Linked DNA regions of Homo sapiens. The protein of the gene in region 3 purifies or fractionates together with the protein of the main gene of each other region. This does not show direct contact. Each region holds a gene or a part of one and is shown on either strand. Other genes may lie near its edges. The genes, in order: HERC3, UFD1 and TMEM62.

The links.
Region 1: the proteins of TMEM62 (region 3) and HERC3 purify together in Homo sapiens (affinity purification with mass spectrometry, with the first as the bait; one large-scale study listed by BioGRID). This does not show direct contact.
Region 2: the proteins of TMEM62 (region 3) and UFD1 purify together in Homo sapiens (affinity purification with mass spectrometry, with the first as the bait; one large-scale study listed by BioGRID). This does not show direct contact.

Annotation. Positions count from the first base shown.
Region 1 is NC_000004.12:88,668,855-88,672,508, forward strand, and holds part of HERC3 (probable E3 ubiquitin-protein ligase HERC3), read left to right. Parts: intron 1-1,005; coding exon 1,006-1,169; intron 1,170-1,284; coding exon 1,285-1,398; intron 1,399-3,654. UniProt on the Homo sapiens protein: E3 ubiquitin-protein ligase which accepts ubiquitin from an E2 ubiquitin-conjugating enzyme in the form of a thioester and then directly transfers the ubiquitin to targeted substrates.
Region 2 is NC_000022.11:19,472,555-19,476,208, forward strand, and holds part of UFD1 (ubiquitin recognition factor in ER-associated degradation protein 1), read right to left. Parts: intron 3,050-3,654; exon of another isoform or gene 3,049-3,049; coding exon 2,916-3,048; intron 2,547-2,915; coding exon 2,514-2,546; intron 1-2,513. UniProt on the Homo sapiens protein: Essential component of the ubiquitin-dependent proteolytic pathway which degrades ubiquitin fusion proteins.
Region 3 is NC_000015.10:43,143,455-43,147,108, forward strand, and holds part of TMEM62 (transmembrane protein 62), read left to right. Parts: intron 1-3,038; coding exon 3,039-3,180; intron 3,181-3,654.

The DNA.
Region 1 (3,654 bases), on a different chromosome or scaffold from region 3:
AAGAGATAAAAACAGAAATAATAATGAAAGCACTAGTAAATGTTAGTACTTAATTTTTTTTAAGATCAAAAGCCTTTTGGGGGCACATTTTCTCAGGTGTTCTAGTTGATGTGAAACAGAGAGGTGGCAATATCAGAAGAAATCTTACCTGACTTTCAAGTTTTAGAGTTTTTTCATTTTTATTTTTCCAGGCTGGAAAATACAAAGAGAACATAATTGTTCAATTTTACACTTTATTTTTAACTTCTAATTATTGATATTTAAAAGAATACCCCAAAGTAGAGAGTATGCTACAGGTAGTCACCACACAAATTCAGCAGTTGTCAGTATTTTGCCCATTTTATTTCATCTGTCCCTCGCCCTCACCACCTTTTTATTTTTTGTTGGAGTATTTTAAAGGAAATCTCAGACATACTATTTCATTCTTTAAGTATTTCAGTATGGCTGAGTTTATTTCCAACGAAGTATAAGCCAGTGGTATATCTTCTTGTCTGGTTATGAGAAAGCATTTTTTGGTGAGAAGTAAAAATCGTAGTTTTTCAACTAATGATACCTCTTAAAGGGAAGGGAATGGTTGCCATATTGGTGCTGCTTCTAGGGTATGTGGTGCGTCATCCTTTGCATTTCTGCTTCAGGATTTAGTGATGGCTGAAAGCGCTAGGACATAAGAATGCTTTTTGGATTAATACATTGGGCATCACTCCTGCCCAAAATATGTGTATCTTGTCCACATGTAGTCTGGAATTGGACTTTTAAGTTAACCTTCAGATTGAGTCTTTGCAAAAAATCAGACCAGGCTTTACAAAAAAAGCTCCAGGGATTCTTTTACAGCTGTTGTTCTCCCCAAAAAGGTTTTAATGGATTCTTTTTAAAGTCAGTTTTGGGAAAATGTATTTTAGACTAATGTTTATCTTCTAGACAAAGCAATTTTTAACTGGCAGGCAGAAGACATAAATACTTGCCCAAGATTACATGTTGAAATATGTCTTTTCTTTCTTTCTAAAGATAACTGGTGGTCTCAGGTATGCCCGAAATATTTCATGAAGCTGGTAAACCTCTATAAAGGTGCAGTCCTTTATCTACTGAGGGGAAGAAAGACATTCTTAATTCCCGTACTGTTTAACAATTATATCACAGCAGCTCTCAAACTCTTGGAGAAGTTATATAAGGTGAGCATAGGAGGTGCTAGTGGGGAGGGGGTGATTAGATGGTAGGGTAAAATGTCCTAGTGAGATGTTCTCTGGGAAGCCATGTTTCAGTTGTCTGTATTTTGTTCTTCATTAGGTAAATCTTAAAGTGAAGCATGTGGAATATGATACATTTTACATTCCTGAGATTTCCAATCTCGTGGACATTCAGGAAGACTACCTCATGTGGTTCTTGCATCAAGCAGGGATGGTAAGAATTCATAAAGCATATTTTAAAGCTTTAGTCTTTTTATAAGAAAAGCACATGTGAGCTGTATAATATGTCTTTGACTTTGATGTCAGTGTGTCACCTATTCTTCATCCAGCTGGCCTTTTGCATTCTAGAAACTTGGAAGTGCTTTAAGTAATCATCAATGTTATAAGGAGTCATAAATGAGTAGTCACCCAGAATGTTACACATTTTATCAGTTGCCCCCTTTAAAAAAATCAGAGTATCTAAAGTAGTCAAATCCACAGAAACAGAAAGTACAGTGGTGATTGCTAGGGGCTGGAGGCAGGGGAAAATGGAGAGTTGCTATTTAATGAGTATAGCTTCAGTTTTGCAAGATAAGAAAGTTTGGAGATCCAATTGTACACCAGTGTGACTATACTTAACACTGCTGAAAGTGTACACTTAAAAATGCTTAAGATGGTACATGTTATGTTAGGTTTTTTTTTAAACCATAATTAAAAAAACAAGACACATACAAATATGAATTTTTAGCTTTCCTCAAAACTTGGAAGATCTGGCAACACGACCTGTCTTCCCATATGACACCAAGTGGCTGGAGTTCAAGAGTGACTCTTTAGATGAGGCTTATGTATATGCCACAATTCCCACTGCAGCGTAATTTATCCCTGACATTGAGGAAGGGTCATTTGCTAATTATCATCTTCTGACAGCCTACTCCAGTCATCATATGTCAGCTACCTGGACCCCGTAGGCCCCTTCTGATTGAGAATTATGTGTGTGAAAGTGTCACACATCCCTGACCAAGTGCTGTCTCACCGTATTTTAGATATGCCATTCAGGGGCCTGTGGATTCCTGCCTACCACCTCTGGCGTGGCAGGAACTGCTCCTTTTGATAGCACACCAGCTTGGGATATATGCAAGGCTCTTTAGGATCTCCCATCTGTGGAGTATGTGCAAATTTGAGTTAGGTCAGAAAACAGAATGATAATTTGGTTATTGTATTTTGTGAAGCCATGTGCAGCAGATTTGAGGTGAGTCCTTGCCAGTGTAGCAGGTTCATCACCAGTATTAGGGCAATATTTTTCCTGTGGGGTTTTTGGAAGTCAGCAGTTGTCTCCAAAAGCAAGACATTTAAATAGGCTGATCTAACTGAACAAGAAGGATTGTTTTCTTTGTCAAATAATAGATGATGAATGCTAGACACAATGTTGTATTTTTTTCTCTAGAGACTTAAAAAATGCATACAATGTTTTATTTTTAAATAAGATTTTATGATTACCCTGAGAAAACAAAATACTTTTTTTTTGAGACAAGGTCTGGCTCTATCACCCAGGCTGGAGTGCAGTGGCACCATCTTGGCTCACTGCAACCTCTGCTTCCCAGGCTCAAGCCATTCTCCCACCTCAGCCTCCCGAGTAGCTGGGACTACAGGTGCGTGCCATCATGCCTGGCTAATTTTTGTATTTTTTGTAGAGATGGGGTTTTGTGATGTTTCCCAAGCTGGCCTTGAACTCATGAGCTCAAGTGATTCACCAGCCTCGGCCTCCCAAAGTGCTGGGATTACAGGGGTAAGCCACTGTGCCTGGCCAGGAAAATACTTTTTAATATAAATGAGTTAGAGTGTTCTAAATGGGCTGACTTGGGAAATTTAACATGGAGGCTAGTAATGAACTCTGTTTTCACTTTCAAATTTAGGAATTATTAAAAAATAAGCCCTTCTGTTTTATCAATTTATGAATAATTATTCACTGAATAATAACATTATGAGCAGAAAAATAAGCCTGATGAATTATTTAGTCCAACTGCTTTGTTTCTAGATGAGGAAATGGAAGTTAAACAATTTTTCCACTAATTTCATTAGTAGCAGTAAAAGTCAATTCTTCTGATTTCTAATCTACCCTTTCTGTGACTTGATGCTGAATAAAATAAGTCTAACAAATTGTAATTCTTTTTTACTCTGAAAAAGAAGTTGCTCATGTTAAAATCTAGATTATTATGACAGTAGTCTCTGAGTAGAGATATTTAAGTAACTTTTACAATATTTTAAACTTCCTTTCTTTTAACATTTGATAAATATCTTATCAGATCTTGAATAACAGATGCTCATCTCTTCAATAACTATAATAGTTATTAAAGAAATATGGAAAATTACATGAAATTAGTATATGGCCTTTTGTGATTTTTGTGGAATTTTTTTTATTGTATGAGGTACAATGCTATTAGAAATTGAATTTTAAATGTCTTGATATTTTGAAGTTTAATTTAAAATACTA
Region 2 (3,654 bases), on a different chromosome or scaffold from region 3:
GACCCAAGAGGTGCACAGGCACATAAAGGAAGGGCTGGCAAAAAGAGGCAGGAAAACCCAGGAGACACTGGGCCCCCGGGAGAAGACCGAGAAGGAACTGATGGTAGTGATGGTGTTTGCCATGTGTAAGGCCCTTGTTCAGTCTTCCCAGAACAGTCAGGTAGGTACTATCATTATCCCCTTTTATCTATGGGGAAACTAAGGCCCACAGGTTAAGTAACAGCACACAAGTGGTGAGCACACAAGACCTCACAGCACACAAGTGGTGATGCCAGGATTCAAACCAAGGCTGCTGGCTTAAGTCCAGGGATTCAACCATCAAAGCAGAATTTAGCTTGTTAGTTCAGACAAATATTCCAATAAAAATCACACTTAGTGTTAGGAAGTAACGCAGATTCCATTTGAGATCTCCCTAAAAATTCTAATAAAGCAAATCAAGTTAAAAGCTTGGGCAGGAAGCTACAGAGAACCTCTGAGAGTAGCATGGAGGTACAGTAAGGGTGGGCACTCCCTCCTATCACCAAGGGTGACTCTCACACTGGCAGTAAAGGGGCCAGGACCTCTGTCCCGGTCCACCTCTCAGCTGCACAGCCATGGAGCTGACATACAGCTGGTCCACAGTAAACTGGACTGGGCTCAGCCAAGGGTCTGAGATTGTTGCAAGTGAAAGAGACTCCAATGTCCCTCAGTCCACTGACTCTCAAACTGCATTTTGTGACTTAGAGGCTCCCAGTGCCCTGGGGCTCCCAGTCCCTCTGTACCCCCTCACTTTCTCCAAAAAAAGCAGAGAACCTCATTTTATGAATTAGAGGACTTCCTATAAGATTTAGACAGAAAGAGTTTCTCCCATCACTTAAAAGATTTGAACAACACTGATCTGAGCTACACCTCAATGACCCAGCCCCTGAGTCTCTTCTGGACACCTGTGCCAAGGGTCACCCCTGGTGTCTGGCTCCTGGGTCAGCATGACTTGAAAGGAAGACCTTTTTAGGGAGCCTGTTCTCTCCTCTGTAATGACAGGGTCTTCGTGAGAACTGTGAACTCCATAGCTCTGTTGACCTACTGGTTGAGCTGAGGCCTCCACTGGGTATAGCCACAGCCAGTGCTGGCTCAGGGGCTACCTCCACCTTGTGGTTGGAATCGGATAGCTTAGGTTGTCACAGACACTACAGTACTTCTGATGCACAGACACTGTAGATATCCCCAATTAAAGAAGAGGACATTGAGGTTCAGAGAGGTCAAGTTGCTACTCTGGAGTCAGGCTGGGCAAAGAGCCCGAGGTGAGTCACACCACAGCCAGCACCTGTTCTCTGCTTGCTGCCACCAGAGGCCCCCAAAACCAAGCATGAACCTGTCCTCCTGGCCAACCCCAGTCTCCTGCCTCACACAGGAAGAATTCACACCAGAAACACTCTTTAAGTCTGGAAGGCAATGACTGCATCCTTGATTGGGTTGTCCATGATAGGGATTTTCTGTGCCTGTGTAGTATGGGGCTAGGGCATGGGTTTCCAGGTTGCTCTCATGGGATAAGGGGTCAGAGAAAAGGGAGGAAGAATGTGGCCACTCTTAGAACCCCTGTGGGCCTATCTCACTCCTGGTAAGAGGCAGGAGCCCAGCAAGAGGAGTGGCTTCTGGATGGAAGACAATAGCTCAGTTTTTGACATGCTGAGGATGCATTGGTGCACTGGAGATTAGAAACGGGGGTCTGGGCCGGGCATGGTGGTTCACGCCTATAATCCCATAACTTTGGGAGGCCGAGGCAGGCAGGTCACCTGAGGTCAGGAGTTCAAGACCAGCCTGCCCAACATGGCGGAACCCCATCTCTACTAAAAATACAAAAAATTAGCCGGGCGTGGTGGCGGGTGCCTGTAATCCCAGCTACTCGGGAGGCTGAGGCAGGAGGATCACTTGAACCTGGGAGGCAGAGGTTGCAGTGAGCCAAGATTGCGCCACTGCACTCCAGCCTGGGCGCTAAGAGCAAAACTCTGTCTCAAAAAATAAATAAATAAATAAATAAAAGAAAAGAAATGGGGGTCTGGAGCTCAGGAAAGATGTTTGGTGAGGGGATGAGGAACCTGCTCACAGCGCCCTCTTGTGAGCTGACCAATTCTTCCTTTAGGAAAAAAATCTAGTGAGCCCAGCCAATGGCATCAGCTGCCCTGGCACGGTACAAAGCACTTGATACTTGTACCTTCACTTAATCCTGACAGAATACTGAGAACAGTTGGGGGGTGGGTGGAGGTGGTGATCAGGAAGGGAAAGGGAACCCCCTTCACAGAGGAGGAACCTGAAGCACCCAGGGCAGTGATGAAGCTGAGGTTCAGGGGGCCCTGGCCTCGCCCTAGGTACCTGTGACCCAGGTTCTCCCAGCCCAGCGCATGCCCTCCACGGACAATTCACAACCAGATGCTGACAAAGGGCACTGGTGTCTGGATGTACTGAGGAGCCCATGCTGACTCTTGGTGTCCATATGTACATTATCTAAGTCCTTAAGTCACTCAGAAGATACTTACTGAGTTGGTCCAGGGCCGAGGGTGGCATAATTACTGTGGAAAGAACATTTAAGAAATATTAAAAAATAAAAATAAAAAGGACAGACCAAAGGCAAGATGCAGTTTCTTTATATCTAACAAAAAGCCTTAAACTGTTTTTAGGGTAGCCAGAATGTCCCAGTGATCTTTCATGAAGAATCTTACTTGATGTAATTTATTTTGGGAACTGAATGGTTATCAGCCATAAACCTAACCATAATTAGCACCCCACCCCAACAGAGCAAGTCAGGGATAAATCCCAGCACCATTTTCACAGTAACACTAGCTTCTGACTCCCACATGCAAAGTAAGTACTGTTGAAGGCTACAGCATTGCAGACTTAGGGCAGGAAAAGTTACTATTCAAATAAAAACAAGCACATACTCTTCCCTCCTTTCTCCACATCTGACCTGTCATTAGGCCCTGCTAGCATGGACACAGAGAAGCAGCGGTACTGTGTGGAGAAGCGGTTTTGGAAGACCCTGGGAATAGGGTGGTCGAACATGTTGAAAGAGAACTAGAAGGAGGAAAGAGAAACAAGTATTAAAACAAAGGTACATTTCTTCATGTCAAAAGCCAAAACATGTCAGAGTAATTAATGCTACTAAACATTGTCAGAGAACACAATGTACTGAAATCTTCAATGTAATCTTACTAAATACAAAACAGGCCATGCCAAGCCTGTCCTGAACCTTTTTCAGGGCTATGCTCCCATCTTCATCCTCAGGATCAAGGCCCAACCTCTTGCATACCTCAGAGACTTGTACTGACAGCCCCACAGACTCCTGCCTGGGCTAGTTCCTCTGCCTTGAACACTTTTCCTATTATCATTAATCTAAACAATATTTGTTAATTGAAACATCTCTTTATTGAGTGCCTACTGTCTGCCAGGCTCTGATATGAGCACAAGGGAAGCACCACTCCAGTGATGTCTGTCCACTAACAAAATAGATACCACCCCTGTCCTGGTGAAAATGACACTCAAAGCAAGAGAGATATACACTCCAAGCAACGGACACACACACATGTGTGTCTGGCAGTTCTGAAGACAAGCAGCAGGGTAAGTAGACACAGGGCTCCTGGGAATGCTATTTTAAATAGGTGGTTAGGAAGGGACTCTGCA
Region 3 (3,654 bases):
ATATCTCTGAAATATGCATGCAGTTTAATGCTTTGTTTTGGCTAATGGTACTTTTAATATTCCACACGGGCTTAAAAAATTGTTTAAGTCATTGATACATAGGAAAAGTCATTTATATCAGAGCTTGTCAGCCACACTACTGAGGTCACTGGGTTTTCAGAATCCTGAGATACTGATTCTCCTGGCCTCTGTGGTGGCTGGAGAGCCCAGTTAGTCACCTGGCTGCTTTATCTTTTCATCCTGTGTCATACAAATATTAAAATAATCTTTATTTGTCACAAATGTGAAAAGGCAAGGGATCTCTGAATTAGAAACCAATTGTCTAGTTTCATTATGTTTAGATTCCTCTTTTGGTTGCAGTGCACTTTTCAGCCTCAGGGTATTCAGTAGCTTTGTTCTGCATTGTCAATCAATCATGTAGCAAATATTTATTGAGAATCCATCCCTAGTTGGATAGTGTGAGAGATACATGAGTTAATGTTAAAAATTTGGCTTTTGCCTTCAAGGAACTGATAGTGTAGTTAAGGGACATCAGAATTATTTAGGAAACAATTAGAAAATAACATGAAGAAATGGCCGAGGAAATGCTAGATTATTTGGTACACATGATAATCACTATGAGAAATTAGAAAAGCATGGGGGTGGACATAGAGAAGACTTTATAAAAGAAGCAAAAAGTGTGTCCAATCTTAAAAGATGAGTAGCATTTGAAGAAGTAAGACATGCCAAGGAGGATATTTTAGGCAAAAAGATAGGTATGAAGAGATCTTTAAAAGCTACAGACTGGGAAACCAAAAACTGAACTTTGCAGGGGCAGTAAGAAAACTGGTGTCACCAGAATTAACATTCATACTGAGGACTAGTATGACACTGGATAGGCAGCCTAGGGCTAATTTATGGAGGTCTTAAGTAACAAGCATAGAAGTTGAGATGTGATGGGTAATAGTTCATAATTCAGCATAGGTTCTTAAGGAGGCAAGTAACATAATTAAAATAGTGTTTTATAAATGGCAATCCCACAATAAAAAAGGAAAAAGATGGGATAAAAAGGAAAAAAGAGATATTGGAGTTATGTGGACTAAATAGGAGGGTCCTGCAATAGTCTAGTCATGATAATGAAAAGTCATACCCATCTGAACTAAGTTCTTGGATATGGAGATGGTGACATCAATTTGAGGATGATAGGTCAAAAAGCACTGGTTAACTGAGTTTGTATGATTAGAGTCACCATACATTGGAAGAGGAGGTTGTTCTCTTTTGTTAATGTGAGAAAGGAAGAGGACAGAGATGAAAATCTTTCACTTCCTGTTAACTGTTTGTATCTTTCATGGTGACTGTGGGGAGTTAGGAGACATGTTCAAAAGTAATTAACAGGACTTGGGGCTGAGTGGTTATTGGGAAAGTAAAGTGAATAGTCACTTTAAAGTTTCTTACCTTTGTATTTTTGTTTTTAGCCACCTAAACTTTATCTGAATTTAATAAATGGCATTTTACTAAAAATATAAATATTACAGAAATACCAATCTGAAGAAAAAAAATTAAAGTTAAATCTTGATCTTAAAAATGTCCCAGAGAGGAGGCAGAGCTTGCAGTGAGCCAAGATCGCGTCACTGCACTCCAGCCTGGGCGACAGAGTGAGACTCCGTCTCAAAAAAAAAAAAAAAAGATTCTGAGGAATAACTGAACATAAAATAAGCAAGAAAAAATATAAGTAAAAATTTTAATTTAGAATAAAACCCTGAAATAGAATTTTTTTTTTTTTTTTTTTGAGACAGAGTCTCATTCTGTCATCTAGGCTGGAGTGCAGTGGCACGATCTCCACTCACTGCAAGCTCCGCCTCCCGGGTTCAAGCCATTGTCCTGCCTCAGCCTCTGGAGTAGCTGGGACTACAGGCGCCCGCCAGCACGCCCGGCTAATTTTTTTGTATTTTTAGTAGAGATGGGGTTTCACCATGTTAGCCAGGATGGTCTCGATCTCCTGACCTCGTGATCCGCCTACCTCGGCCTTCCAAAGTGCTGGGATTACAGGCGGGAGCCACCGCGCCTGGCCCTGAAATGGAAATTTAAAAAATACCAAGAAGAAAGGCAGTAGAACTAATTGACATTGTTTAAATTGGGTTTGACTAATTTCTGAGTATTAGTTGTAATGTCTATATCATATATTTACTCGGGTTACATTATATTTGATGGTTGTTGTGGCCCACTAGCATATTAAATTTCAGGAGTTTATTTGTATTTTTAAATATATGCTGTTAGGTAAAAATCATGTAAGACACTTAGATAAATGATAATACCAACTTTTCTTATAATGTTCTGACATTTGAATAATATAGGTATGCCCTCCAATAAAATCTATACTTTCCTTCTTATTTATTCAACACATACTTAATGAGTGCCTGCCCTGTACTGTGTTACTCATCCTTTCTTCCTGGTCTTCACTCTGCAGTTTTATGGACACCTGAACACTGTTGACGCTTAAGGTGGTAAACTTTCATTAGTGGATATAGACCCTGTGTATGTTATCAATATATCTTTAGGAACTGAAAAAGATTTAACAACCCAGACCTAGACTAATATTTTTTCTCCTTGCTTGAAGACTTCATCTTTGCAAGTCTTTCTTGTGAATTAAGCCTCTGTAGTCCTGTTTCAAGAAGTAGACAGCTTTTTTATCTCACTACACCAAGAATTCTAGGTACTTAGTATGCCCTCACTAAATCTGCAAATGATTGATAAATACTGTTCCACTGGATTTTGATTTCTTTTTGAACATTTAATGGACTCCCTAAAAGAGCCGTCTTACTTCTGAACTTGGTGAACTTGTATTTGGTTATTGAATGAGTTTGCATGAGTCTTTGGGGACAATGGGAGAAAAACTTTGAAATTTCATCAGTTTATCCATTGTGGATCTAGTTTAGTATATTTCTGTCAGATCAGCAAATCTCGTTTTCAAAGGAAGGTAAAATCTAGCGTATTAGGGAAGGAATTTTAAAGCATTGTCTTTTTATTACACTAACACCCTCCTGTCTTCTATTTTTTAGGAAATATTCTGCTGTACGTAGAGATGGCTCTTTCCATTATGTCCACAGTACTCCCTTTGGCAACTATTCGTTCATCTGTGTAGATGCCACTGTAAATCCAGGGCCTAAGAGACCCTATAATTTCTTTGGAATTTTAGATAAGGTGCAGTAAAAATCTTACTTCCCTTTGTAGCTTACTTATTTTTTCATGGATACGTGTGGATCACTTAAAGTTATCAAAAGTAAACTAGTTGTTATCTAGGAATGCTTTGGAGAAATTTAACTTGGTTACAGGTATGGCTAGAAGTTACTGGCTATTTCAGCACTATTTTTGCTATCCTTTTTCTTGTCCCAAAATCTGAGAAAGAAGTACCTCACACTTTATGGAGTAAACATTTATTAAATAGGTACTGAGTACAGGATGCACTTTGCAAGTTACAGGACATACAGCTTTGTGTGGTATATTCCTAAGTTCCCACAATTGCCAGTTCTAACTAGTGTTTATTTTTTGAGACGGAGTTTTGCTCTGTCGGCCAGGCTGGAGTGCAGTGGTGTGATTTCAGCTCACTGCAACCTCCACATCCCAGGCTCAAGCAATTCTTGTGCCTCAGCCTCCCAAATAGCTAAGATTACAGGC